Regions from separate parts of the Homo sapiens genome. Here all the other regions are linked to region 1. Evidence: fine-mapped QTL for protein levels in blood plasma. A gene starts in region 1. Each other region holds a variant in brackets. All regions are shown on one strand. Distances are from middle to middle.

The links. PIP is the chance, under the fine-mapping model, that this variant and not a neighbour inherited with it causes the effect. Protein levels are from antibody-based Olink assays in UK Biobank. Linkage for the fine-mapping came from a reference panel and not from the study's own genotypes, which makes the PIPs less certain.
Region 2: its variant is fine-mapped to the plasma level of the CPXM2 protein (UK Biobank, PIP above 0.99).
Region 3: its variant is fine-mapped to the plasma level of the CPXM2 protein (UK Biobank, PIP above 0.99).

What each region holds. Positions count from the first base shown.
Region 1 is chr10:123,888,443-123,896,617 of GRCh38, forward strand. It overlaps CPXM2 (carboxypeptidase X, M14 family member 2), which reads right to left and starts at 3,365. Exons shown (of 14, transcript NM_198148.3): 1 at 2,914-3,365. The coding sequence starts at 3,217. It overlaps LOC105378534 (a long non-coding RNA gene), which reads left to right and starts at 5,262. Exons shown (of 3, transcript XR_001747622.2): 1 at 5,262-5,541; 2 at 5,636-5,802.
Region 2 is chr10:123,850,907-123,859,081 of GRCh38, forward strand. The region is part of intron 3 of CPXM2 (carboxypeptidase X, M14 family member 2); the gene reads right to left. Among named protein-coding and RNA genes, the nearest start is that of CPXM2, 37 kb to the right of the region's middle. The variant G/A (reference allele first, on the strand shown) is at 5,447.
Region 3 is chr10:123,859,889-123,868,063 of GRCh38, forward strand. CPXM2 (carboxypeptidase X, M14 family member 2) reads right to left here. Exons shown (of 14, transcript NM_198148.3): 3 at 2,726-2,835. Among named protein-coding and RNA genes, the nearest start is that of CPXM2, 28 kb to the right of the region's middle. RefSeq lists enhancers at 1-289, 3,790-4,531, 6,078-6,885. The variant CA/C (reference allele first, on the strand shown) is at 2,846.

The sequences.
Region 1 (8,175 bases):
TAAACACTCCAGGCCACAGTCCAATGTTCCTTCCTATGTAAGTGCCTTCCTAAGATATTCCAAAACAATCCAATGCAGAGATAAGTGCTTCTATTACACCACGAGCAGCATATAGATCAAGCCGCTACTTAAAGTAGAAAAAAAATAATTTTCTCCTAGTGTAGTTTAACTGCACAAAACTGTCACTGATTCCCCTAACTAAGTTCACGCTTAAACCAGTCTTCCCACTTTGGTCCAGGGCAGAGGATTCTGCTGAGCAAACACCAAAATAAAAAAGGACAGGAGTTAAAAATATGAGATAAATGTCACACTTGTCTTGTCATGGTTGGGGAGAGCTCTAAAAAAGCCCCACAGAATTCATTAGAAACACAGCTGACATGGTAGCAGGTCTGCAGGCAGCTGTCCCAACAGGCCTCTGATGTGAGTCTCTAGATCTTCCGAAGACGTGTTTTCAGTATGGGGCTTGGAGATCCCGGTGGATGCCAGGGCTGCGGTGAACTGGGCAATGTGTCCTGCAGGAGCAGAGGCTAGGCACCGAATCAACAGGCTCCCCCATGGCCTGTCTCTACCTGCAAGATGGCCTTCCAAAACCAAATGAGCTTTTTCTTGCAAATTCAGGTTACACTCTGATTTCTCCTCCAGAGACCCCATTCCAAGAGTGGCAAGAGCTGTTTCTCCAAGGACTAAAGAGAGTCACTTCCCCATGTAACCCCTGAGTCTGCAGACACATTAGTCTGTGGACACTGCTCAGGCCAGGCTGTGACTTTCTGAGATGTGTTTTGTAGGGAAAGAAACCTATCTTAGGAATGATGTCCGGTCACTTGTACGAGTCCCCAGGACAATCAAGCTGACTTACTTGTCAAGTCTTAAACATCACCTCTTCGGGGAAGCATTACGCAAGCCCCCACAGATTCAGTGAGCTCCCCCAGCTTGTTTGTTACCTTAACACCCCACACTTTTGTGCAACCCTTAACACAACTGTGATTACTTTCTCAGAGTTCCCAGCTAGTTCCATGTGGTGGGGGGCGGGGGCTGGGGGGCAGGGAAGAGGAACGTCTTGCTCTCCCCATTCCTAGGATCTCACCCAGCACCAGTGCTTAGCAGGTTCTTGGTAACGGCCTGTGGAATGAATGAAAGGTTCACAGGAAGACCAGCACATAAGCGGGCAGGCACACTGGAAGCTTTCATTAAAAAGGTTTTTACAGCAATTGACAAAGTAAAGTGAGGTGGCAGGTGCAGTCTTCCTATTTGCAAACGATGATGAAGTTAAAGCTCAGGAAACTGAGCCATGATTCCAGATCCCCAAGTTGATGAGCCCTAAACATGGGTGTTAGGCCCAGTCTTCAGACTCCCAGTCTGGGGCTCTCTTCCACTTTCCCCCTTAGCACTACCCCCAGTGACTGCCAGAACCCAACATACATGTCTCCTGCCTACACCACCCTACCATGCCCAGGACGGAGCTAAGCACATTGCAGGCACTTAAAAAAAAACTAGAATGCATGTGGATTTGATTCAAACTACCAAACCAAAAAGGCCTTGAGTTAAAAAGGACAGAAGAAAGGCTTTCAAATATCCCAAGCCAGCAAGTGACGCTGAGCAAGTTACTTAAACTGTCTGAGCCTCACCCACCCTTCGGAGCCACTGAAAGGATGAAATGAAACTGGCACATAAAGTTTCTAATGGAGTCACAGTCGACATTCTACAAATATAAGTCTCTTCCCACTCCTAATCCTGTTATTAAGCCACTGTAGCTCTTAAACATCTGAATTCCCATAACTCTCCCTGAAACACTGGAAATTCTGGATGTGTTCAGGGTTGTCACACAACTCAGAAATCTCCGCCCATTCAAAGTTGTCCACAAATGGAAGCATGCCAGGGCCTCTGCAAAGGGGGGTGCTCATATAGGTCCACCCTTTCAGGAGTTCTGTGTCCTCACCCCTCCTCCACTTTCCCACTGCCCTGGCTGCTGACTTTCGTGAGCAGTTTAACCAAACAAAGACGATGCCTTCCATACCCGGAGCCCTGTAACGGTGGCACCCGCACGTATCTCCTTTCAGGAAAGGCCATTGCGAGGCCAGAGAATTTGGCCACATTCCTGCTCATGCCCCACTCTTGAAATACCAGGCCTGCAGCCCCTGCAATTTAAGCAAAGAACATTTGGAACTAGAGAAAGCCCCACTTCACAAGGTGGTTAATAAACTACGTCATTTAGTGGAAGTCATTTTCCTAAGAAAATGAGGTTGGCAGAAACTGAAGATGGATTTGAGAAGGGTATGAGACTTGGATGAAAGACGGAGCACTGCAGGCAGCCAGGGAGCCCCCAAGCCGGAGTCCAGGCTGCAGCAGACTCCAGGCACAGACTCCCCAGTGGAGGCTGTGCCATCCTGCCCCAGCCGGGCAGAGGACCCAAGAGACCCGCTGAGAGTGGGAAGGAGGGAGCTGAGAAGGGACACGACTGGGTAAAGGCCTACTGGCAGAGCTTTCCCTAGAAGGCCATCTGCCAAAACAGCCAGCCATCCACATCCCCAAAGCGGAAATTCAGCCGCATTTGAGGATTGAAGAAGTAGGCAGAGAAGTAAGAGGCATCCAGCAGAAAGACCCTTAGCTCAGGGGATTTCAAGCTTGAAACAAGAACTTTGACTCTCATAGGCAGCCTCCCAATTGCACAGCTCCCTCTTTACCTAAGGGCATAAGCCAGAGCTGAAATGCATGTCAGGGTCAAGGACAAGTTCTGGGAAGCTGGGCGGGCCGGCAGGAAGCGCAGATACAGTCCCTAGGGAGGCAGAGGCGGCAACAGGGAGATTCCCGGGACTGGCCCATCCCAGACACACACAATGGGAGAAGCCAGTTGTCCCCTGGAGGCGCGCAACCACCGGCGCCCCCTCGGGCTGCCCAGCGCAGAAAGTTCCTTACCTGGTGGAGGCGGCTCCGGAGCCGACTTCTCCCTCTTGGGAGCTTTCTTGGGCTTGGTGGCCCTCTTGGGCGGCCTGGGCTCCTGCGGGCGCCGCTCCCACTCCTCCCCGGGCCCCGCAGGCAGCGGCGGAGAGAAGGTCTCGAGCTCGGGCTCCGGGCGCGCGTAGTAGGGCTCCCGGCTCCAGATCTCCTGCCCGTAATAATCAGGGTCCTCGAGGGCTGCGCCCTGGGCTCCGACCCCGGCCAGGGTCACTGCCAGGAGCACCAGGGCCAGCGCTGGGGTAGCGGTCCCCGGGCGGGACATGCCTGCTCCGCCCCGCGCCCAGGGCAGGGTCACGGTCACCGGGGGCGCCGGGCGGGCTGCGGGCGCAGAAGCTGGCGCGGGGCAAGGGCGCAGGGCACAGCAGAGCGGCGCGCTTGGGCGCGGGAGGCGGCCGGCTGGCTGCGCGTGTGACCGGCCCGCGGGGCTGGGCTGGGCTGGGCCGGGGCGGACAGGGGCGCGCAGAGGCGCGGGGCGGGCGCAGGGGGGCCGGCCCCGCCCTTCCTTCTTCCCTCCCTTTCCCGGCGACCCCTCCGAGGCCGGTCCTTGGAGGCAGGTGTTCCAAGCAGCCAAGCCCAAGAAAGCCCCCTTCCCCTCCCCCGCAGGCCAGCCAGCGTGGGGCCTGCTTCCCCAGAGACGCTAATGAGTTTCAATCTTAGAAGAAAACACTGAGGCCCGCTGTTCCATTCCTGTTTTACAGGTGGAGAAACGTGACCTGAGAGAAGAAAAGATTGGCCCAGGGTCCTAAAGTAAATCAGAGCCCAAGCAGCCTCCAGCTCTCAAACCGTGCCCCGTGTGCTGACCATTCCGCAGACGTGGACTTCCCACTAGCCATGCTACTGTTTCAGGAACTGGGAATGAGGAATTCCTGAGGTTCCCGGGGTTTCTGGGAGTAAAGTTCCCTGGGAGCAGGGCCTAGGGACCCTGGAGGAGCCCTCTCCCATCTGAGACTGTGATTCTGTTGGGTCTTGGGAAAGACAGTGACGTTACCCCAAGGTGGCCATCCAGGGGTCACAAGAGGGTTTGTGGTTCATCCAAGAGCAGGCTCTTGCCCAGAGGGTCCTTTGAGAAAGGGCCTCCTGCTTTGGACAACTCTGCATGGGTTCTTTATGCGGAGCCCAGGCCCATGGCCCTGCGGCTTCTGCTCTCCAGGCGGGGATGTGGGGAACCAGGGACTGCATCGTTTCCCTTGCTGCTGTAACAAACGATGACAAACTTAGTGGCTTCAAACAACACCTATCTCACAGCTCTGCAGGTGAGAAGGCTGATGCGAGTGTCACCAGGCCAAAATCAAGGGGTCAGCAGGACTGGTTTCTTAGGGGAGCCTCTGGCGAAAAGTCCACTTCCGGGCTCACTCAGGTATTGGCTGAATTCAGCTCCTTGCGGTAGTAGGACTGACGTGCAGTTCACTCGCTGGCTGTGGGCTGAGGCGCCTTTCCTCCTGCTGGCTGCCTGTGTTCCTCCTCATGTCTTCTGCAGGCTCCTCCAGGCCTCTCCCTGGTCCTCGCACGTGGGCCCGGCATCTCAGAGCCAGAGCTGGCACAGCTTCAAATCGCTTCCCTTCCTGCCACATCTTTCCGCCTTCCAGCTAGAGAAAATTCTGTGCTTTTAAGAGAGTGTGAATAGATGGGCCCACCCAAAAAATTCAGTATAGTCATCCTATCTTGAGTGGTGACCTTAACCACATCGGCAAAGTCCATTTTGCCATGTTCCCTAACTTTTTGCCAGGTTCCGTAACTATCTCTTGTTCTAGGTATTCAGGTGTAGATGTCTTTGGGAACCCATGGAGTGCGCTACAGGGACAGACTGACCCTCAAGCCTGCATTGGCCTGTCACCTTCCCAGTTCCTCTGGGTCTGTGATGTGATCCTACGATGCCACTGAGCTGAGTCAGGGCACCAGGGCAAGGCCTCACCATTGCCCTGGAGTGAGGACTTCCCTAGAGTGGGGGCTCCTGAGACCCCACAGTGGGCAGGGCTTGGACCAGGAAGGTTGTCATTCTCTTTCTGCGCAGGCCACTCCACCAGGCCATCTTTTAGGGCCAGTCTTCCAGGCTTCCAGTTTGAAGGCCAAAGCAGAATGACCAGAGGGAGAGGAGGAGGCTGCTGGTTGAGGCAGGGCCTGTCTGCAGGGACCAGGAGGCCTTGGTCCTGCCTGTCAAACCCCCAGGACGCTCTGGAATCCAGAGCCAGCAGAAGTCCTCAGGGTGAGAGGGCAGGAGGGTCCCCTTCCCCACCCACCACTCTTTGCTCCCCAACCCTTCCTGGATCCCCACCCACCCTCCTCCATGGCCTATCCCCAGGGCTCACTCCTGGGGACTGTTTTATCTGAAGCCAGGCACTCCAGACGACAACACAGTCTTTAGTGGTGAAACAGAAAGCGGCTCCAGCAGCAAGCAACACACCCAGCGTTCCAGCGAGCTGTGTGAAGCGCTAACAAGAGGCTGGCCTGGCATCCTGGCCAGAGGGACTGCAGAGGCAGCCCAGGCCAGGACGGTGCCCTGCACCACCTCCATCAGAACCCCCAGAGCTTGCTCAACAGCAGACCGACACCCAGGCGGCACCCCAGACCTTCAGAATCTCCTAAAGAGTGGGTTCAAGTACTAGCATATCTAAGAAGTTCCTCAGGTAATTCTGATAGCATCCAAATTTAAGATGAATCTTCTCCCTCTCATTTTACACAGGATCCTGAGGCCCAGATTTACCTGAGGACACACAGCAAGCTAGTGATGGCCAGGACTAACCCTGCTCTGCTGCCTTTAACCAATATTTAAAGTCAGGCCATATACATCCCAATGGCCCCAAGCCCATGAGTCCTGAAGACACTTTACCGCTTTTCAGCACCTCTTAGGTGAGTAACATAACATATACCCGCTCTGCAGTGTCTGGTAAGTGTCCAGAGAAGGCCCTACCCAAACATGCCTCTCAACATGTCCCTGGAATAAAGAAATGAGTCCCACTTATTACTGCTCTCCCTATCAATGCTTGCTTGTTTGTTTTCCCTGGAGAGACACATAATTAAAGCAAGTAGGACAAATAGAACAAGAATCGATTGCACTGATGCCAGTTCTCCCAACACAGAAGCCCACGGCACTGTTCCTGGAGCCTCCTTTGTCTACCTCTGGCTCCCTCTCTCTGGTGCTGCCCGTCCTGGAAAGGTGCAAGGCACAGTCAGAGCTCATGAAGTTTAGGAAGATAGGGCGGCAAAGCTGACCTCATTCTCTTGGTTTGCAAGCCTTATTCTTTCTCCCAACTCTCACCTATCTGCCTGGGAGGGTCCTGCGTTCTTCAGCTTCTCAGATGAAGACCTCCCTGGTCATCTTGGCCCCATCTCTCCTTCACCTTCTAATACATAGCAGTAAGTCCTGCTGCTCTCATGGCACACATTCTTTAATCTGCCTCTTCCTCTGTTCCCACTGCCCATCACTCAGCCCATGGTTCAGAGACCCATGGCAGATGATGGGAATCCGTGCTCAGCAGGTCTCGCTGTTTGGGCCTCTCTGATCTGCCGTCCACTCTTCCTTCAAGGCAACAAGCCATTCATTCTCCCTAAACACCCGTTAACAACCTTGCTCCCCGACCGAAGAATCTGCAGGGCTAACCAATCCCAAGTAAACCTAACCCCTCTAGGTAAGGTTCAAGGCTCACCAGCTCACTCAAACTTGGCTCTTTCCACTTGCCACTGGGCAACAACCATAAGACAGATTCTTTTTTTTTTCTTTTTTTTCTTTTTTTTTTTTTTTTTTTTTTGACAGAGTCTCACTTTGTCACCCTGGCTTGAGTGCAGTGGCACCATGTCGGCTCACGGCAACCTCTGTCTCCTGGCTTCAAGCAGTTCTCCTGCCACAGCCTCCCAAGTAGCTGGGATTACAGGTGCCTACCACCACACCCAGCTAATTTTTATATTTTTCATACAGACAGGGTTTCACCATGTTGGTCAGGCTGGTCTCGAACTTCTGACCTCAGGTGATCCACCCGCCTTGGCCTCCCAAAGTGCTGGGATTACAGGCGTGAGCCACCATGCCCGGCCAAGACAGACTCTTAATGGCCTCCTGCACAGCACTGATAAGCTCTGTGATTATTATAATATGCTAACTTTGCATCTTCCACAGAAACCAACAGAATATAAGAAACACAGAAAATTTCAATAACTCCTTCTGCATAACTAATCTTGCCTAGAGTCTTTCACGGCATCAGCCAAAGAATGTTTCTCTCTAGGACTTTTTTGTTCTCAATCTAATAATTTGTCTGTTTAACTCAGGACTGGAACCCTCAGGAGGGGCTGTGAGTCTCTCCGCGTAGTGTAAGTAGAACTCCAGAAAGCACTGATTCTCCCTGGATGTCAGCCGTGCTATAAACCAGACACACCAGTCGGGGGTAGTAATGGGGGCAAACTGGGAAACCAAAGTGGCAGTTCAGAATCCCCCCCAGTTTCTGAGTTCTTCAAATGGTGTTCTTTAAAGTCAACCATTGTTTGCCTCAATTGAGAATCTGCTAAGTGCACTTCTGCTAAGCAAAATAAGCCCATGTTTGTCCATTCATTCATCCCTTAGACAGGATTCTGCTAAGCCAGTTTCTGTTATACAACATAAATCCATACTTGTCTGATAATCCTCAAACACCTTACACGGCTAATAATTTTTCAAATATTTATGAGCCCCACAAAGGAGATTTATGTTAAGCTGCTTGGCAAGGAACAATAGAGTGTGCAGGTCTAGAGAACATTCTGTTGAAACAAATATTGTCAAGACATCAATATTTTTATAGCATTTTTCATTACGGACTTTTCACACCTGCTCATTTCCCTAATTATCCCTGAGACTCTTACACTTTCAGAGAGAATGAAAATGGAATTTTTTGAAAGATCATTAATTTGAAAAATTAGCTGCTATATAAAGAAAAATACATACTCAGGCACAGCCATTACTAAAAATATAGTCTTGAGATGGATGCACAGGGAGAGAGATACTAAGTTGTTATGGCAACTATCATTATAATTACAAAGCTGGAGGGTTTTTCTCGTTCATTACTGTGTTGAGATGTGATAGTTTAAATGGCAGTGTCCTTTGTGATGTCCTCAATCTCATTACTACATAATTACCCATTTCATATTTAATTTTCAGCATGTTTGTTCTTACTCCCATACCCTGTACATTTGGCATCTTTTGATAAGCCTTATTCTTAGTTCATGGGTCCCTCTTGCAACTTAATTCCTCTCCTCACT
Region 2 (8,175 bases), 38 kb before region 1:
GACAGACTATTATACTGCCAAACAGGTTTCCAAGTGGCTGTGCTACTTTACATTCCCAGCATTTTATGAACGCTTCCATTGCCCTACATCTTTGTCCACACTTGATATTATCCTTTTTTCAAAGCCATTCTGGTGTCTGTGCATCCTGTCTCATTGCGGCTTTCATTTGTATTTACTTGACGACTAATGGTGGAAAGCTCTTTTTCTCATGGCCATTGGCCATGACATTGCTCCATAACCACAGTGTAGCTCCAGTCACACTGGCTTTGCCTAAGTCCTTCCAATAGACCATGTTCCCCACCACCACAGGGCCTTTGCACATACTCTTCTCTTTGACCTGGAATGCTCTTCTCTCCCTCTGCCTACCCTTTGTCCAATAAACTCTCAACTTATAATCCTTCTTCATTTATTAGCCCAAGTACTCACTCCATCCTCAGGAAAGTCCTCCAAGCTCCAGCCTGAGGCAGATATATTGGGCATACAGAACCACAGTATTGAATTGTGTTCCCCCTCTCCAAAATAGGCTCATGCCCTAACTCTTGGAATCTCAGAATGTGACCTTATTTAGAAATAGGGCTGGTGACCAGGCACGGTGGCTCATGCCTGTAATCCCAGCACTTTGGGAGGCCAAGGCGGGCGGATCACAAGATCAGGAGATCCAGACCATTCTGGCTAACACAGTGAAACCCCAGCTCTACTAAAAATACAAAAAATTAGCCGGGCATGGTGGCACGCACCTGTAATCCCAGCTCCTCGGGAGGCTGAGGCAGGGGAATCGCTTGAACCCGGGAGATGGAGGTTGCAGTGAGCCAAGATCACGCCACTACACTCCAGCCTGGGTGACAGAACGAGACATCATCTCAAAAAAAAAAAAAAAAAGGGGGCTGGGACAGATGCACTTAGTTAAGATGCAGTCAGCTTAGAGCAGGATGGGCATATCCAGCATGACTGTGTCTTTAAACAAGGGGATATCTGAACACAGAGACACACAGGCAGAGGACAGATGATGTAGAGGCTCACTGGAAGAAGCCTGAGGTACCAGGGAGGCAGAGACTGGGGTGATGCATCTACCAGCCCAGGGATGCCACAGAATGCCTGAGGCCACCAGACGCTGGAAAGGGCAAGGAGGGACCCTTTCTTAGAGACTTCGGAAGGAGCGATGCCCTGCTAACACCTTGATTTCAGATTTCAAGCCTCCAGAATTGTGAGAGAATCAGTGTTTGTTGTCTTCAGTTTCCCTATCTGGGCTCCCAACTTTGTCATGGCAGTCCCAGGGAATGAATGCACCTGCTCCTCTCCTTCCCAGGACTCATTGTAATTATGCATTCCCAGGTGGGATTTTTTTCAGTAATTTCATCTCCCCATTAGATTACTAGATTATCAGAGTTGCAGGTTAAAAAGCATGCCCGACTCCCTTCTATTCTCTTGCATCCTTCATCCAAACCTCATCTGCCCTGCATCAGAAAATCCTACTTTCAAAATAACCTAAATCCAACCACTTCCAACCCCCCTCCATCACGCCTATCTTGGCTCAAGCCAGTACCATCTCCTGTCTAGGGCCTGAAGTCACCGCCCTTGACAGGCCTCTGCTTCAATGCTTGCTCCCCAAAAGTCAACACAGTGACTAGGTTGATCCGTTTCACATGTAAGCCACAGCATGTCATTCCTGTGTCCAGAACTTTCCAGGGCTCCCCTAATTGGCTCACGGCTAAAAGCTGAAGTCCTTCCAGGGGGCCTGCAGGCCTCCTATTACCTCTGGCTCATGTCTTCTCCCCTGATGCTCACTCCAACCTCCTGCTGCCCCTTGGCTATACCGAGCATGCTATACCTGACCTTTGCTCAAGCCATCCCCTCTGCCCAGAATGCTCTTCTCATACCCCCTTGGCTCCCCATTGATCCCCTTCTTGAAAAGCAGCTGCCACCTTCCCAGAGTCTGCCCCCATGACTACCACTGCCAGCTGTCCGCTGGTTTTGTTTCCCTTCTCTCCATAGTACGTGCCACCTTCTAACATACTATAATAGTAAACACTATGATTTGTTACATTTCCTGCTGATGTAGTTTGGATCTGTGTCCCTGCCCAAATCTCACGTCAAATTGTAATTCCCAGTGTTGGAGATGGGGCCTGGTGGGAGGTGATTAGATCATGGGGGTGGATCTCCCCCTTAGAACTGTGTTTGATAATGAGTGAGTTCTCATGAGATCTAGTTGTTTAAATGTGTGTGGCACCTCCCCAGTCTTTTGCTCCTGCTAGGGGCATGTAAGCAGTGCCTGCCTCCCCTTCACTTTCCGCCATGACTGTAAGTTTCCTGAGGCCTCCCAGAAGCAGAAGCCACAATGTTTCCTGTACAGCCTACAGAACCGTGAGCCAATGAAACCTCTTTTCTTAATGAATTATCCAGTCTCAGCCGTTTCTTTATAGCAGTGAGAGAATGGACTAATACATCTGCCTTGATTTGCCTCCCGCACTAGAACACAAGCTTCAAGGTGGCAAGAATCCTTGTTTTGGTCATTTAGGCATCCTCAGCACCTAGAACACGACCCAGCACATCATAGGCCCCCAGTAAATATTTGCTAAGTGCTCAGGGCTCTTCTGTTTTTGCTCAGCATTGTTTCCTCAGTTCTTATGACAGTGCTGAGTACATGAAAGGTTTCCAGAGGTGTGTTGTGTTTTTGTGTTGTTGTTATAATAAAATGAATAAATAAAAGAAAGAATCTGGCCAGGTGTGGCGGCTCATGCCTGTAATCCCAACACTTTGGGAGGCCAAGGCGGGCAGACCACTTGAGGTCAGGAGTTCGAGACCAGCCCGGCCAACATGGTGAAACCCTGTCTCTACTAAACATACAAAAATTAGCTGGGCATGGTGGCACGTGCCTGTAATCCCAGCTACTCAGGAGGCTGAGGTGCAAGAATCACTTGAACCCGGGAGGTGGAGGTTGCAGTGAGCAGAGATCGTGCCACTGCACTCCAGCCTGGGCGACAGAGCGAGGCTCAGTCTCAAAAAAAGAAAGAAAGAAAGAAAGAATCTGCTGTTATTCTTTCTTTCCCTCCTCCTCTCCTTTTTTCTCCCCTCCCTCTCCCCACCCTGGCTTTTTCTGCTTATATAGCATTTATTGTGTCCTTGAAGCACTAACACAGAATGACCTACACACCTGATTCCCAACCATGCACCTCCAGGAGACGGTCATCTGACCTGTGTGTAGCAGGGCAGGTGCCCTGGGGAACCATCCCCATGAGGCATCACTGGAGAAGCAGCTCTGACTGCTGAACGCACACACAGGCTCCGGGGGTGACTACTGATGCCTCTCAGATCAGACTTTTCTGGGCCCTTCCTGGATGTGGGCGTGGGAGAGCCTAGGGGAAACTCAAGCCAGTGGTCAGGGAGATAAGGCAGCACAAGCTGAGAGGCAGGGGTGGCCCAAGAGCTAGTGAACAAATATATATATATATATAAAAATATATATATATAATATATATATAATATATATATTATATATATATTATATATAAAATATATAATATATATATAATATACTTTTATATATAATATATATAATATATATTTTATATATATTTGTTTTAGAGATAAGGAAACTGAAGTCAGGGGCTAAGTGACCTGCCCTAACCCCACAGCTACTAAGTACAGACCTGAGACCCTAATCTCAGTTTTCCGGCTGTAGATAACCCAGGGCTCCTTCCCTGCCAGCTCCAGCACCCAAGTGATGGCTCGGCTTGTTCAACAGACAACCCCCGGAGCCTGTGTGTCTACTCCGCAGTCATAACTGCACTGTGCCTTCTCCAGCGATACCTCATGGGGATGGTTCCCCAGGGCACCTGCCTCACTGTACACAGGTAGGATGACCGTCTTCTGGATGTGCACGTCTCCCAGCAATCAGGTGTGTAGGTCATTCTGTGTTAGTGCTTCAAGGACACAACATATGAAATTTAATAACATATTAAAGAAAAATGCACACAGCAAACAGAACAGAATCTATATCTGAACCAGATAATCCTGTGGTTCCTTAATAATCTGTGGTTCATGGGTCAAGGAGGCTTTGGTGGTTTTGGACCCTTTTTACTTTGGTTACATTGTCCTTCTACCGGCTTGTATGTCTACACTGTAAGCTTCTTGAGAAATAAGAACAGCATATTACCATCATACTAGATATTCATTTTGATTTCTCCAAGGGAGTCACAATTTAAAATATTCAGTCCTGTTATTCCCATAAAAATCCAAATACCCAAAATTCCAGTGTTTTGGCATCCAAACACTGTCTCCCAGACTGTTTGCTTGAAGCCAGATGTAGAACAAAATCCCTTTATCAGAACAAACACGACATTCCTTGACTCGGAAACTATGTCTACTGTGATTATTTTTGCCTCTGCAGCACTTAGCACATATATGGCCCCCAAGAAGAACTTGTGAGACACAGTAAGGTTTTGCATAGCCAGGAAAAACAAAAACAAACAAAACAGAAAATCGGGAAGGCATGAAGGAAGAGATAGGCTTAGGGTCAAAGACACGGGTGCAGGGCCCAGCCACAGGCAGGTGTGGGTCGGGCACAGGTGAGACCTGGGAAAATGGTACTGCCAAAGGTTCTCCATAGACTTCCTGCCAGGAGAAATGTGGGTGGCCTCCACCTTTGGTCAAAGTGGGGCCCCAAGAGCACTGGGGCCAAAAGGTACAGGGAGACACGTACAGGACGTGCCCTGGAACATGAGCTGTGACACAGGATAAAACTCAGTTGGTTCAATGTTCTAAAACTGCATTCATGTCTTCATGCGGGGGTACAAATGAAGCCACAGGCAGCAGCCGCCTCCAAATATCCCACCTCATTTTAGGTAAAAAGTGGATGAGAACACTGGAACTAGATTCTAGTACTGGCATCGAGGTGCTCCATATAATTTTTTTAAGGAAATGACTGAGGAGAGGACTCATGATTCCTTCCAGCAGTGCTGGGGAAATGGCTCTGACAGACACTATTATTATGGCCAGACGTTTCCTCCTGGAAGAGCTGCAAGAGGTGAGCCTCTCTCTCTAGGGGACCAAACTCTCAGTCATTTCTAACATGGGTGAGACAAGACCTGGTCCACAGAGTGCCAAACGACCGTGACCAGGCTATCACAAGGACACCCAGAGCTGTGCAGGGAGTGTGCTACGTTTTTCCTTGTGACCTCAAAACATCAGCTGTTTCTTCCAAGCTCTGATCTAAGCACCAACTTTTCTACATCCCCATTTATAAGGGATGTAAGTCGGTCCCCAGTTATAGGCAGGAATTGTGGTGACATCCTGAGTCCCAACCACACACTTGGTGTTTCATTTCTTCTGATCACACGTCAGACCCTGACTGACTTACTGTAATTTAAATTCTTGAGAATGAGGTTGAAAGCCAGCCCTCTGACACGGCAGTGCTTACTACTGCAATCTGTTTGAGGCTTGCCAGCTA[G/A]GAAAATATCCAAAATAATAACAGTGGTGCAATAAATCACTTCAGCAGGGCTGCTGTCCCCGAACCCCCTTCCTTAGTTTATGACCCAGGGAAAATATCTTAGGGTCCTCAAAGGAGGATTCTTTGGGGTGGGGCAGGTGATGAGCTGCCATTAGATGACCCACCTGAACATAGGGTCACTTCCTAAGACTACCTACAGGCAAAGGATCCAAGCATGTTTTGTTTTGGTTTGGTTTGGCTTTTTTTTGTTTTTTTTTGAGACAGAGTCTCATCCTCTCGCCCAGGCTGGAGTGCAGTGGCATGATCATGGCTCACTGCAACCTCAGCCTCCCAGGTTCAAGTGATTCTCCTGCCTCAACCTCCCAAGTAGCTGGGATTACAGGCGTGTGCCACCACGCCCGGCTAATTTTTGTATGTTTAGTAGAGACGGGATTTTGCCACATTGGCCAGGCTGGTCTTGAATTCCTGACCTCAGGTGATCCACCCGCCTCGGCCTCCCAAAGTGCTGGGGTTACAGGCATGAGCCACCGCACCTAGCCCTAAGCATGATTTTAGAGGTCATTGTCAATATGTTCTCTTGGAGACTCAGAATGTTAATTTCCAATCTGTCCGTAGTTGCTCCCAGAATGGAAGAAACCAGTGACTGTTTCTAAATGAGATCACAGCCTCACAAGTGAGTTAGTATAAAGGGGTCCTGGGCGCACAGGAAGAATAATCATAGGTGAGGGGCCGAACTTTTGCTCTCCTGCTGAACTGGATGTCTTCCTTGAATTCCTGAAAAGTCTATTTTGTCCCAATGTAGTGATAAAATGTAAATGTTGGTTTTTTTCTCTAACCTTATATTATTAAGTTAACAAAAGTAAAATTCTACTTGAAAAAAAGGAAGTATTGAGTTATAAGGACTCTTTCAAAGTCTTCTGCTTAAAATGATGGAAAAGGAGACAGGTATTTCTGTAGTAACACGGCAAATGTATTCCAGTAAAAGTTCCCAGTCTAAAACCCAGCTCACCAGCCAGCCCATTCAAAATCTATACAGGTCTAGAAGCAGAAGACTGAAAAAAATTAATTTTAAAAACACATTAGCACAATTAAGGAGACACGTTGAGTTGCTCAAAACAGTGTTTAAATACAGCTGTAATTATAGGATTTGATCTGAAAAGGAAACAAGCAGGGAGGCAGGTGATGCCAGCGATGGAAGGCGGCGTGGAGATGGAAGGCGGCGTGGAGATGGAAGGCGGCGTGGAGATGGAAGGCGGCGTGGAGATGGAAGGCGGCGTGGAGATGGAAGGCGGCGTGGAGATGGAAGGCGGCGTGGAGATGGAAGGCGGCGTGGAGCTGCTGAGTTGAAGGCTAGGGCAAAACGGAGAAGAACCTGAGCAATGCACCAGCACAGGCCCCACTGACGCCGAGGAACAGGAGGCACAGGGCACCACGCACGGGACTCCGCAGCTTCCACGCTCGCCCCTGACAGTGCACTCTGTGGTCAGGTGCTGGTGCTGGGTCCCACAGACTATTCATAGACTCCACACTCACCCGTGACAGCGCACTCTGTGGTCAGGTGCTGATACTTGGTCCCACAGCCCATTCATAGACTTTACACTCACCCGTGACAGTGCACTCTGTGGCCAGGTGCTGATACTTGGTCCCACAGACCACTGATAGACTCCATATTCACCCGTGACAGTGCACTCTGTGGCCAGGTGCTGGTGCTCGGCCCCACAGACCATTCACAGACTAGCAAAAGTCACACATGAACCAATGCTGCTTCTGTGTCATAATGACATCATCCCTGTATCTGCCAACCACACAGGGCAAATATGCACTAGAAAAACACATGTGACAGCAGACCAGCCTGCCCGGCCGCCTCCTAGGCTTCTCCTGCTTAAGCTCCCTTAAGCACTGCAGCCACTACACAGAAGCTTTGTTGATTCAGCGCATCCATATGTGCAGACACCGCGCTCACACAGGGTGGGGAATACCCAGAAATGCAAGAGACACATTTTCTGCAAGCGGCTCAGCATTTGGCGAGGGTGCAGATGAATAAATCAATGTGAGATAACTGTCAGAAAAGAGAGATGTACACGGTTTGATCACTAGTCCAGCTGTTGGACCTATACCACTTCTATCTGTTGACTTGGGAGGCAATTTTATGGCATCATTAGGAGCAACAACTCAAGGTTTAAAGCTGCCTGGATTCTTAATCTGCCCCTCCTGGGAAATGTGAGCTGAGTCATCCCATGCTCCCTGTGTCTGTTTTTCTATAAGGCAGAGGTAATAATAACAGTACTGTCTTCCATGTTGGAGGAATAAATGAAATCACGTGCATAAGGCACTTAGCACTGTGCCAATAATGCTTGGAGCTGATTCCCACTCTCCCTCTGCTAAAGACTGAAGCATCTTGAAGGCAGAGAATCCCTAGGGCTTTTTGTCATGGCCCTTTCCATGCCTGTCACATAGCAGGCACCTCACAATGGTCTGCTGCAAGAATGAATGCTAATAGGTAAGAATATGCATTTGAGAACTGCCAAAGGCAATTCTTTTTCTTTACTCCTTTTGACACTCACAATTCCATGACGGAGGAAGAGCCAGCGGTGGGACCTGCACCTTCCTGATGACGACACTGAGCCTTGGAGAATGAGGGCATCTCACCCGAGGCCACATGGCTGGTCAGCAGAGCGACCAGCACCAGCATCCCAGCCTGTGAGCCCCATACCTTCCAGCCTGGACCA
Region 3 (8,175 bases), 29 kb before region 1:
TGCTCCCTGCTGGACGCCCCATCTACGGTGAGGCTCCTGTGCAGCCCAGGAAAGGTAGGTCAGTGAATAAACACCATCTGCACCTCAGCCAGGTCTCCGTCCATATCCTCAGTGCACCTCCCATGTTGCAGGTGCTATTCTGCACACCAGGGGCTGGGCAAGCAGGAGAAACAAGGCCACATCTAACATGGGGCTTACTCACAAGGAAGGGGCAGATACAACCCAAGGAAATAAGTAAATGAAGGTTCAGAGAGAGACCCAGTCACCCAAGACCAACCTGGGACTTTCCTCATACAGTAACTAGAAGCCACCAGAGCCTTTCAACAGAGGAAGGAGATGATCCAGGGAATGTTTTAAAATCAGAAGTCACCTAAGGTCACCACTCAAGGAACTCTGTGAGTGATTAGGACTCTCATCTTTCTGATGAGGCAACTGAGCCTCAGAGACATGAGATCATTTGTTCCAAAGTCCCCCAATCTAGAAACATCAAGGCCAAGGTCTGCACTCAGCATGCCTGTCTACAACATCTCATTGGCACACCCTGCGTGGCACTCTGCCGGTGGAATTCCCAACTGGAGGGACAAAAACACCACGCTCCCCCGACCTTCCCATTCAACCCCAACACATTTAGGATTAACAGGACCTTTTAATTTTTGACCGAAAGCACAAATAAATGTGAACACTTTCTCTTTTTCAAAGGATAATTTCAATTATAGAGAAATCATGCAAAGCATCAGACGACAGCTCCCCTAATTAATGCACAAAACAGGCTGCACACGCCCTGCTTGGATCTGACTGTCATTTCCTCAGAGGCCTGGAGCCCCGTCTAGGGTACTGGAGGCACTGTGGGGACACGAACATAGCTCCAGCTCAAGCTTTGCGGGCTCATGTGTTCATCCCTCATAAAACATAAGAGATTGTTTGCAGTTGACAGTTGTGCACATCCAAATATTTCTTATTAGTTATTATTCTTTTTTTATACGAGTATTTATAAACCAACCTTCGGATCTCCTTAAAGTTAGTTCTACAAATGTTCTACCTGAATTCGTCTGAACTGAAAAGTGGCGGAGGTTAAGCAGTTCGAAAGTCTGTTTGATGCGGTGCAGTCTGAGGGGTGGGGTGGAGAAAGAGCAAAGCTTGGAGTCAGAGCTTGGCTCAGATGCCCCCAATCCCATGAGCTCCCTGGGAAGGAACCTTATCTGTTTGTACACAGTTCCCAGCACAGCAGCTGCCCCTAGCACATTTACACAGACCGCTGGGGGAGTCAGGGGTCCACTCTGCCACTTGGAAGCCATTAGCTTTGAGTGCACCCTTGATGGCTCTCAGGGCCAGGGGCAAGGAACCTCCTCCCTCCCTAGGCCAGAGATGGTGCACGTGCAAAGGGGCTTGGAAACTACTCCCAATACAGAAGAGCTATAGAAAGAAAACTAGAATATGGTGCCATTAGAGAGCCACACAGGACGGTAGAGATCAAGTGCTAAGTTGAGAAAGAACAGATCAGCAGGAGGTGGGGCAGGAACAAAATGCCCTGGGGATGGGGCGGCAGAATAACTCCTACCCAAAGATGTCCACGCTCTAATCCGCAGAACCTGTGCATATATTAGATTACACAGCAGAGAGGAATGAGGGTCACAGATGGAATGAAGGTTGCTTGAGGAAGGGAGATGATCCCAGGCTATCCAGGTGGGCCCGGTGTAATCTCAAGGATCCTCAAAAGGGGAACAAGAAATCAGAACAGAGAACCAGACAGGCAGTCACATGAAGACTCCATCTGCCTTTGCTGGCTCTGAAGAAGGAAAGAGCCACTAGCAAGGAATGGGGCAGCTTCTCAAGACTGAAAAGGGGAAGAAAATTGATTCTCCCTACAGTCTCCAGAAAGAGCATCGCCCTGCATACCTTGATTTAGCCCAAGGAGACGTCTGTCCTCCAGAACTGTAAGAGAATACATTTGTGGGAAGAGGCTACGTTTGTCACAGCAGCAATAGGAAACTCATACATGGATCAGATGGGATTCATGTGAGTGGAGCATGGTTGGGCAGTAGAAGTTTCAGGCAGGGGAACCTGCTACAGAAAGGGCCTGGAGTCAAGAATTGCACGGCGTGTAGAGTGTGCAGGCAGGAGCTCACCTTCCTGGAGCAAGACCTCGGACTGATGGGACTGACAGAGAGGGAGGCCTGACAGTCTTGAGGCCCAAGGTCAGAAAGGCCCTTGAGCCTCCAGGAGGGAGACCAGCCAGGATGTGCATGGTCCCAGGAGCCATGCAGGGCTTGACCCGGGGGAACACAATGGAGGGAGCCACAGGAAAGCCTGGAAGGTGTGTGTGTGGCAGAGACAAGAAGCACTGGCAGGGAGGCAAGGGAAGACAAATGCCACTGCCTCGTGTGCCACGGCTCTGCCCCGCCATGCCCCAGGCATTCCACCTTCTCCTCCTGTCCTTTCTGGACCAACAGCATATGGAAGAGAAGTGTTCAAAAGGTGGAAGAGGAACAACCTGGGTCCAGGTACTGGTGGTCTCACTTTTACTCACGACAGTCTTTGGAGAAGACATTGCCTCCCTGAGTCTCAGAGCTCTCTCTGTAAAATTAGGATCATTCAGCAATATCCTTTCTTACTGTGAGCATCCAGGCTAATGCATTTTAAATCCTGCGCATTGCCTGATCCAAGCTCAAGGAACCAGAGCAATAAACAAGGCAGTCAAAATCCTTCCAACCACAGGGCCAGGTACCTGGATGTTGAGTCTCCCTCGATGTGCCCCCAGGCCATAGCGCTTCACCGTGGAGGCATGGAGCTGGAAGTCTGTGATTTTTAAGGTTTCCAGACCAAGAGGTGGGCAACCTGGAAAGGA[CA/C]AATGCTTGTTAAAAACAACGACAGATGCTGAAAGGGATGAGTTTCTTATTTTCTAAATCTGGCCGCGTGCTTTTCCATTTTCCCCTGAACTCCCACCCACAGGCATGCCTGGTCTTTCCAGACACGGTTGATTGAACTGTCAACATTAAGCCAATGTTCTTTCTTGTTGGCATTTGCTTTAGGGGTGTTTTTGCTCTGATATTCCTTCTCTTTTGCTGTCCATGCTACTGTCTGAGGCTGTTCCCAATTAAGGATCCTTCCCCAACATGACTCAGTCAGGAAGCATCATTGGAGCTCTGCAAATTAATCAGAACTTGCGGATTTTGCTTCAGCAACTCTGGCCTTTATATTGTGCATGCTAATGAGCAGAGGAATATAAGCAGAAAAAAAACCTATTGTTTTCCAGTCTCTGCAAAATGGATAACATGGAGCACAGCTAGTAAACACCATTTGCCCCTGGAATAAAACACCAGTGCTTGATCGTCCCAGCCTAGCCCATTGTCCGTAAGAATGACAATGCTTAAAGCAGCATCCAGAAGGGGTCTCCTGACCTCTGGGCTGCTGTTTGCCCCCACGCCCACCACAGTGAGTGGTGGAGCATTTAGTGAAGGCGGAGGGGTGCACACAGTGAGTGTGAAAGGCCATGCAGCGAGAGGGGGCCACATGATGAACCGGGGGTCCCCGCATTGAGGGGGTTTGTGCAGCAGGCATGCCAACCACCCGAGGCTGACCTCACAGAGAAAAACTTGGCTACCATGCCCCCTTCCTTCCCCAGGGTTTGCCCTCACACCTTCCAGGCCTGAAGGACATGAATCTGACCCATGTGGTGGCAGTTCCTGGGTCCCACATGTTCACTCTCCATCCTGCCTACCAGAAATGGACCTCAAGTGGCTGACCAGCAGGGTTAATCCTCACACGACATACTCAGAAATCCTCACTGCTGGGCCTCCAACAGCCCTGCCTCCTCATAGAACCTTCTCATGCTGTCCCAGAAGCCCCACCCTGCCACTCTCGTGGTCTGGCACCTCCGCAGCTTGGCCCCTGAGCCCAGGTTATAATCCCACACCCCGTCACTCTCTGAGACAGCTGGGAGCCTGGGCCCGTGCCCTTCACTCTCACCTCAGGACAATGGGCCCCTGCTGTCGGATGCCATTCGCCTCTTGGAGCTCACAGTCCCCAGCGGTCACTGGTATCCACCAGAGGGCCTTGTCAGAATCCAGGGCAAGCTCTGAGAGTCAAGGCCACTGACCCATTAGGCTGCCTGTCCCTTTGGAGAGGCTTGACTCCAGGACATCCTGCAGCCTGGCCCCAGGAGCCTGGGCTCTGGCTGAAGCTCTTGGGCTCCCTAAGCTGGGGTTGCTGCCCTGCTGTGCCCCATTCTCATCCTCGTCTCCTGCTCACTCCTTGCTCTTCTCCCCATCACCTGGTCTCAGCCTATCCTGCCTTAGACACAGTCAGCATTCTCAGGAATAACCGGTCTGTCCTGAGAGATCCCGCCCACCGAGAGACCCCACCCACTGAGAGAGAGACCCCACCCACTGACTGTGACACCAAGCTGGCTAGGCAGCAGGTTCTGTCAGGCGATTCCTGGTGGCCTGGGAATAGCCTCTATTTATCTTCACTCTGCCAGCTGTGGTTTCAGGGTTCAAGGGACCTGGGGGGTTTCAGACCCTGATGGGGAACCAGGCACAGGTCCTGTCCCTCCATGTCCTGGTACTCAATACATACCCACAACAGTCCCACATAACCAAGCATCAGAAACACCAAAAGGATCTGCTGCCATCTTATGAACCTATTTCACTGCCGTGTTGAAGGCCTTCCAACCACCAGCTTCTTCCTTGGTAGCAGAAGACACAGCAGGAGGTAAATTCCATGGACTTCCTTCAGCAAAGCCACCTTTATTTATATCATTTATACACTCTAAGTGAGAGACGGACAGATGGACAGATAGCCCACCAGATGGACAGGCAGACATATATAGATCATGTACCAGCTCAATAAAGCAACAATAATTGCTATTCAAAACATTTCTTCCAGAAAAAGAGCACGACTCCTATGCACGTGAGTATTTTAATTCAAAAAAGGAAGTACCTGACTAAAATTACATATCCATCAAAATTGCTTTTCTGTCGACAGACAGAAGCTCTGTCACATCCTCTTGCCAAGATACATAAGGGGTGAAAAGAAAGTGCCCCCAAGTGAGGTGTTTCATGGGTGCACGTCTAATAGCAACTGAAAAGTGCAATGCCTGCCCTCTCACGGGCTGAGTTTCCCGCCGCCAGCAGTGCTGGCAGCTGCCACATCTAACAGCCATTCTTGTCCACTCCTGTGATGGTGTCACGGCAAAGCCAGAAACTTCACCCCCTCCACCCACAGCACAGATGATGACTTTGGTGGGGGAGCCCAGATAAACACACACGAACTTGGCCTGCTCGCAAACGTAGTCTTACAGGAACCCAATGCTCTGACACTGGGATTTTTTGTCCTTATTAGAAGATGCTATTTTTAGAGCCATTAATTTTGGTTTGGAAGCCTTCTCCATTGCCCGTGCCACTTACAAAGAAGCTAGAGATTCCACACAGAGAAAACACAATGTCCTTGAAAGGCAAAGACAGAGTTACTGATCCGCCTGGGTTAGTGAGGGCCCTTTGGTTTTAAGAAACCTACCACAGCCAACTTAGACAGGAAGGGAAATCCCTAGAGAAATGAGAGGGATGGCAGAAAGTGAGAAGGACAGAGGCGGGACACAGGACACGTGCAGGTGGAAAGGCACAGAGCTCCCGTCATCTAGGAAGCAGAACAGTGGATTCCAATGACACTGTCCACCTCCTATCACACCTCTGAGTTTCCACTCAACCTCACGCATGCCTCCAGAGAGGGCCTGACTCACCTGGTCCCCTGGCTGCCCACTGGGATCAGGGTGCTGTTAGCAAAACAAGGGGACGCCAAATTCACAACCGACATGGGGCACGGGACGGGCACCTGCAGCTACTGCCCAGAGCTGAGGGTGAACACAGCTCAGGCAGGCTCGCCCAGCTTCTGAGTTATGGGTTCTTCCAACTGCCTCCTCCTGGCCAACCCCAGGAGGGGCAACACCTCCATCTCTGCTTCTTCTCTCCCTTCCTTTCCTGGGATTTTTGCTCCTGACTCCATTCATTCACAGTGGCCCTGGTCACTTTGTGGCCCTTTGGGACTCCTCAGCCTCTTCTCCGTTTTTCTGTACTGGGCCCCACAATTTCTCCCTCTCAGCCACTCCTCCACCCCCACACCACACACAGCCCTGGTTTCCATCACACAATGTTCTGCTCTTTCTCTTCCCTCTCGGTCCAGACCTTCCTTCCTTGTTTGGACTTTTCTTTCCACCTTCCCCAGGGCAGTCTTTCCTGGCTGCAGCACGGGCTCATCACCCTCAGACTGATTCCCTAAGAGAGCCCCTCCCCTTCCCTTTAACAATCCACCTTCTGAGCCCACACTTCAGCTATGAGGTGTCACAGGCACCGTCTATGCCACTCAGCGTCCAATCACACGCACAAAGTTTAAATTCAGGACCGGGTGCGGTGGCTCACGCCTGTAATCCCAGCACTTTGGGAGGCCGAGGCAGGTGGATCAATTGAGGTCAGGATTTCGAGACCAGCCTGGCCGATATGGTGAAACCCCATCTCTACTAAAAAATACAAAAAATCAGCCAGGTGTGGTGGTACACGCTGTAATCCCAGCTACTCGGGACGGCGAGGCAGGAGAATCGCTTAAACCTGGGAGGCGGAGGTTGCAGTGAGCCGAGATCGTGCCACTGCACTCCAGCCTGGGCTACACAGTGAGACACTGTCTCAAAAAAAAAAAAAAAGTTTAAACTCAGACGACTTGCTTGTCTGGAGACTGGCCTGTTGACGTGGCAGGCAGGCCTCAGAACCCTGGAGGCCCCCATCAGGCAGGTGTGAACGCTGCAGCTGGAGTAATCCGCCTGCAATCTGCAGCTGAAGCAAATACCCAATCATCTTCCAATGTCTGCTGCAAAAGAATCTCCTCAAGCTTGTCACCACTTCTTCCTCGGCACTCTGTCCCCTCACTTTTGTGTGGCAGAGGCTGCAGTATCAGTCAGGCACACAGCAGTAAAGTCAGCTTCACTTGGAAAGTTCTTATTTAATCAATCTTCCATTCTTTATTTTTCCCTTTGATAGCCTCCTCTCCTTCCTTCCATCCCACGTCTGCCTCACTCTGACTTCACCCTATTTTCCATGAGCATCAGGGCAATTCACAAATGCTACTGCAACCCAGCCTAACACACGGCGCCATGCCCCGCAGTAGGCATCCTGCAGGCTCAGATAAAACTACACACTGAGCCAGCTGGGAGTTACCCACCTTCCCCAAATCCCATTTTAAAACATTTTTTAAGTTAAAAAGAAGTTTAAGCATAAAGTAGTCTAAGCACAAGCCCACTATCCCACATCCCTTTATGCAAAGATCAACAAGGCAAAAATCCCATGTCAGAATCAAGCATCCCAGGAAAAGTTCCCAAGCCCATCTTAAAGACATATTGAACATCTGACACAGGAATCTCCACATTTAGAAAAAGGCAGGATTTTCCTATGCTAAAGAATGAGAAAGTAAGGGGCTAGAAAATAAAAGACAGGAAAATTATCTTTTGCTTTAAAGATCTAAATTAATTCGAAATACATAATATTGAAATACTCATGCTTAATATTTCACTCTGAAGAATTTCAGAATATTTCAACCTGATTCATTTTTCTTCTTTTCTTTCTACCTTCAGAGCGTCATCCTAGAGATTTCTTTCTTTTTTTTTTTTTTTTTTTTTTTGAGAAGGAGTTTCACTCTTGTCACCCAGGCTGCAGTGCAATGGTGCGATTTTGCTCACCGCAACCTCCACCTCCCAGGTTCAAGCAATTCTCCTGCTTCAGCCTCCCAAGTAGCTGGGATTATAGGCGCCTGCAACCATGCCCGGCTAATTTTTGTATTTTTAGTAGAGACAGAGTTTCACGATGCTGGCCAAGCTGGTCTCAAACTCCTGACCTCAGGTGATCTGCCCGCCTTGGCCTCCCAAAGTGCTGGGATTACAGGCATGAGCCACTGCGCCCGGCCCATCCTAGAGATTTTTGACAGGTCTACTCAATGTCCAAAATGAATAAAGTGACCTGCTCCTCCCCCTTGGGTTCTCCTGCTAAGGGGAACAATACTACAGTGGGGAGAAAATTATGCAGGATGAGGAAACCACTTGCAAAGCATGCGAGCCACGTAAGAGAGAGGAGGTCTGGGGAATCTTAAACCTGCAGAATGGTCTGGAGGCCTCAGAGCCACAGGGGCTAGGGTAAA